2 separate regions of the Homo sapiens genome follow, and region 1 is linked to region 2. Evidence: fine-mapped expression QTL. Tissue or cell type: whole blood. Region 2 holds a variant in brackets; the other region holds the start of a gene. All regions are shown on one strand. Distances are between the middles of the regions.

Evidence for each region. PIP is the estimated chance that this variant, and not a neighbour inherited with it, causes the effect.
Region 1: it holds the start of AQP3, and the variant in region 2 is fine-mapped to the expression of AQP3 in whole blood (TOPMed, PIP above 0.99).

The regions. Positions count from the first base shown.
Region 1 is chr9:33,446,427-33,449,109 of GRCh38, forward strand. AQP3 (aquaporin 3 (Gill blood group)) reads right to left here and starts at 1,167. Exons shown (of 6, transcript NM_004925.5): 1 at 997-1,167. The coding sequence starts at 1,104. RefSeq lists a silencer at 1,153-1,342.
Region 2 is chr9:33,415,280-33,417,962 of GRCh38, forward strand. No RefSeq gene overlaps it. Among named protein-coding and RNA genes, the nearest start is that of AQP7, 14 kb to the left of the region's middle. RefSeq lists an enhancer at 1-357. The variant G/C (reference allele first, on the strand shown) is at 1,594.

The DNA.
Region 1 (2,683 bases), 31 kb after region 2:
CAGGGCTGGGGCAGGAACGGAGTAACCCACTCACTGCAATGTAGCAACTGAACACAGAGGAAAACAGGTGTAACCACATGAGCGGCTGAAAAATCAGAGTAACTGGGACAGGAAATAGAACATAACTGGTGGGTCTGCCAGACCTAAGAAGTGCAAACAGAGTCACTCAGAACAAAACCAGGGTGAAACTGGTGTGACCAAGGAGTAACTAGGACTGAGGAGTAACTCAGGCAGGGAAATGCTCACTCAGAGAACCCACAGAGTAACCAAGAGGCCAGGGAGTAACCAGAATGCTTGTCGTCTTCTGCACAGACGCTGACAGCATCTGTCTGGATAACAGACAGGGCCTGGGAGTCGCTGAGCACCAGGTGAGCAACTTTAGACACGCGTCCTCTGTGCCTGGGCCTAGCTTCCTCCCACCCTTCTACCGTCAGAATCTGCCTCCCTTCCCACTTCGCTGTTCGCAGCCCATGTGGCCTGCACCCTCTGCCCCCACTCGTGCAAACTGTCCTCACTCACTTCAACCTTTGGACTTTTTGAGGCTTAATTATTCATTAGAGGCCAGACACCCAGGACCCAAATAACCTAATAATGGCTCATTTGCCTCCGCCCCCTCCCCTACATCTGGGGGCTGGGATTCTGGGAATCTGGAGGGGTGTGGGAGGCAGGGGAAGTGGCTGGCTGTCCCAGACTGCAAGCGTGACCGCTGCCCCCAGCCTGTTGGCTGAGTCACTTGTGGGAGGGTAAACGATCGGCACTATCACTGGGGAGTAACAGCTGTCATTCTGGCAAGAGTCGGAGCTGTCAGAGAGGGGGTTAGAACCGTGGGGAAGAGGACTTTGGAAGTCAGCTTGATCCTCCGCGGTTAAGCGTGGGGGTCACAGCTGGGGAGGTGGGTCCAGGCTACCTTGGAAAACACAGCCCCTTCGGGGAAGTGAGAGTTTGGGGAGTGCAAGGGCTGGAGAGAGAAGGGCTTCCCCGGCTCCCTCCACTCACCACCAGGATGAGGGTCCCCAGGCACTCGGCCAGCGCCTGTCGGAGCAGCCGGTAGCGGATGTGGAGCATCTCCCCGCAGCGGGACACCAGCTCCTTCTGTCGACCCATGGCGGGGCAGGCGGCGGCGCTGTCGGGCGGGCAGGGGTGGCGGGAGGCGGTGGCGCAGCGAGCAGCGGCCTCCAGCGCTGGTGGCTCCCTTTATAGGAGCGCTGGAGACACGGGCCCCGCCCGCCCTGCAGCCCCGCCCTGCAGTCCCGGAGCGCCGAGGAGTGCGCGCCCCCTCGCCCCCGCCCCACCTCGGCTGGGAGGCTGGTGCGGACGCCGGGTGGAGGGAGCTGCGGGCATGGAGTGTGAGGAGCTTTGAGGGACGGGTGGCCTTCGGAGGGCGCTTAAGGGAGGGGACGTCAAGGGGGCTGAGAGGCTTAGGCAGATCTGAGAGCCAATGGTGGGATTATAGGCAGGGTTCAGGGCCATGGCTGGAGAGGATGCAGCTGTCATAGAGACCACCTGCGCCCTGTGATCACCCCACTTCCTTGCGGGCAGGAGGAGACCTGTCAGAAAGAAACTGGCCGCATCTCTCCAGGATGACTGGACCCAACAGATCCTCAGTTCGAGGCAGGAGGAGGAGGCTGCGAGCCCCAAGTGAGAAGCAACACTGTCTCTTCTGTCAGGACAGATAAGGCACCGACCCTTCAAGGGGACAGCTAGTGTCAGAGGGGCAGCAGTCCAGACTCAGGTGGGCACACAGACACACGTGCTGAGTTCCAACCAGACTTCATGGGCCCTTCTCCCTGTGCTATGAGCACGTCGTGTGTCGCATGTCCTGGCCAGCTATGTCCACAGCTGTGTCTACACATGGCGGATGTCCTGTGTGCCTAATTGTACGGCTGGGCATTCCTCGTGGCTGTGCACATGCCTGTTGAACATGGCTAGGTGACCTAGCTTGTCACACGTGTACCTGCGTGCATTGCTCACATGGCTCCAGAGGCTGAGCTGCAGTTGCCCCGACATGCCACATGCCACATGTTTGCCAGCAGGCTGAGTCCCAGCTGTTTTTAACCCTCTCCTCTCCCATCTGACTTACCCCCAGCCAAGGAAGAGTCTGTCTCTTTTTTTTTTTTAGACGGAGTCTCTCTCTGTCGCCTAGGTGGAGTGCAATGGCGTGATCTCGGCTCCCTGCAACCTCCACCTCCCAGGTTCAAGTGATTCTCCTGCTTCAGCCTCCCGATTAGCTGGGATTACAGGTGCACACCACCATGCCCAGCTAATTTTTGTTTTTTTAGTGGAGATGGGGATTCACCATGTTGACCAGGCTGATTTCGAACTCCTGACCACAAGTTATCCACCCGCCTCAGCCTCCCAAAGTGCTGGGATTACAGGCGTGAGCCACTGAGCCCAGCAAGTCTGCCTCTTTAAGCAAACTTAATTATGGGGGAGTCAGCCCTATCTGAGGGGGATCATGGGACAACCTTGCCCTCTCTCTCTTTTTAAAGAGTAGGGTCTTGCTCCATCACCCAGGCTGTGGTGCAATCACAGCTCACTGTAGCCTCGAACTCCTGGGCCCAAGTGATCCTCCCACCTCAGCCTCCAGAATGGATGGGACTATAGGGACTATGTGCCACCATGACACTCAGCTAATTTTTAAAAATCTGTTGTAAAAATGAGGTCTTGCTATGTTGCCCAGGTT
Region 2 (2,683 bases):
CGTCCTGGGCATCCCCAGGAATTCACGGCTCCAAGCCCTTGAGCCCTGGGCGAGGGGGTGCGGGGGAAGCACCTGGGGTGGGGCAGTGAGCCGGGAGCTCCTCCTTTCTCCTGTTCCAGCCTGTCTACTCCCGCCCTGCACGCCCCTACCCACAACCCTGGCCCCTAGTTGAGCCTCTCACTCCTTTCACAGCAGCTGAGGCAACCCAGCCAAGAGCCTCAGTGAGATGGGTTTGGGTAAGGTGGAACCTTAACCCCCAGACTCCCAACCTCATCCTGTTTTCAGCACCCATGAGACTGGCTCTAGCACCCCCTGCTGGCAGCCGAAGCTGACTCCTTTAGCCTGAGTCCACTGGAGGTGTCACCCGTGCGTCCCCAACTCCAGTCCCCTCAAGGGCTCCACCCGGCCCAGCCCACATGCCTTTGTTGTGGCTTCCAAGTTTTCTTTTCCACGTCACCTGCGCTGCTTGCTCTCTGGTTTTGTTGACTTTAGTGCTGTCTCTGTTTGCTCTGGCTGAGCCAACAGCCTCAGGATGAAACTCTGAGCCCAGGAAGTGTGAACCTGAGAGGCAGCAGGCTGGGGGTGGGGACGGAGGCAAATGAGAGACAGGGTAAGATCTGAGCTGGTTCCCGGGCTCAGGCTGGAGTTCATGGCAGCTCACTCCAGCAGCAGGGTCGGGGCCCATGGGCAGGGATGGGTGGAAGGATTTTTCCAGCCTCACTGAGAGCAGGTCTTGGCCTGTCACATCACTGTTTTGAAGTTTATTTGGAAGCTCAGCCCCAGAACTCTAATGCCTCACATCTCCAGGAGGTCTGAACCCCTCTGTGGGGCAGTGCAAGTTCCCTGGAGGCTGCGATCTGATTTCAGCCCCTAGTCCTTCAACCGAGCAACACAGGGGACACCACCATCCCCCATAGGAAGCCTCCAGGACCGAGCTTTCCTGACTTTCCGTGCGCCTCCATGAGAATCTGTTACCCAGCAGCCTGGCAAGGTGACCCCACAGGGATTATTGCCCCTCTACAAATTGAGCCCCAGACATGGTAAAGGGACATCTCCAAAGTCACCAAGTGAGAGCTTCCTGGCTCCTAGTCCAGACTCTTTGGCCCTCTTCAAGCATCTCTCAGATCATGGAGTGTGATGGGAAGGCAGCACCAGGCCCCAGGTGCCGGGGCAGGGGCCAACACACCAAGTTGTGGAGTGTGCATACAGTGCCACACAAACCAGGGGCATGCGCAACCTGGGGCTGACGTGCTCACCCCACAGCCCCTCAGACCAGACGCAGCCAGGACCCTCACGTCCCTCCTGCCTGCAGAGGGGGTAAGAGAAAGCAATGACTGAGTGCCCACCTGCCACTCACTGCTCCCAGCCTGCCTGTGTGGCCTGTGGGGTGTAAATGCCGTCTCAGGGTTAGGACAGTGGAACCACCCTGGCCTGCAGCCGGGAGCTTAGGGATAAGGTTAGGGAAGCTGCTGCCGTCACCACAGGCTTAGGGTGCCCAGCTCTGCCAGCTGATCCAGCCAAGTCCTTCTTGGGGAAGATGAGCTGTCATTAGAGAGCCCTTCCCACCTCTCAGACCTCCGCTTCTTATGGCTC[G/C]ACAGGCTCTGAAGCTGCAATCCTTCTTTTCAGGAAGACACCTGTCACATGTGCGTGTGCTCTGGGAAGTGCTGTGTGTTCATCCACACTACCTCCGCCCATGCCACATGCCCCCTTCGCACCTGTGGCACACAGTCTAGGGGGCTGTGTGCCTGGGGACTCCCTATGTATGCTCAGTCAGACACGGGTACACATCTTGGACCCAGGTGTGTAACACAGCATTGCGCCCATATAGGTGAACACACAGGTGCTATATTCTGCATCCCTCCTACCCCTTTCAGAGCAAGGACCATTTGAGGGTGAGGGGTGAGTCACCTGCCAACCTGTGGGACCTGCTGAGCTAGCAGGATGGGAAGCCACAAGCTGACAGCTGTGGCTTCAAGGGACCAACACCCTGCGTGGGGCCCGCCCAACCACCAGCCTCCAGCGCCCCCAAACCCCTTACCTCCACCCTTATTAAATCCTACCCACACCCTCAGCCAAGACTCATGCCAGAAAGGCACCTCTATTCCTTTACAATATATATCTGCAGCTGAGCTGTCGCTGCACCTCATGGGCTACTACCAGACCTCTGCTTCTGTACAGATGCCTCAGGGAAAAACCAGGGTGGCAGCAGGACCCATCCCTCTCCTCTCCTCTGTCCAAACCCTGAGACTCCTAACTATGCCCCCCATGGAACCCCTTCTTGTTGATAATTCATACCTTTTGCGCCTCTTATTGAGCACAGAGCCCCATTCTAGGCCCAGACGGGCTCTGTCCCCTCCTGCCCTCTCTCACCTCTGTATTCCTGCTCAGAAGTCTGTCCCCAAGTCTGGGAACTCCCTGAGGACAGAGGGGCAGTCTGCAAACATAGACAGAAAACCAGGAAACCCGAGTAGCCCAGGTGAGTTGATCGTCCCCCAGATGAAGGAAGCTGGTTAAAAGCCCTCCTGGCTCCTCCTGTGCTTTGCCAGCACACCCAATTAGTTACCAAGACAAGTCTTGCTGGGTCTAAAGAATGTCCTCAACTCCTACTCTGTGCCAGACGTATCTGTAAATACATGGTCAACTTTGTACATGCGTCACTCGGCTGGGCATGGTGGCTCACACC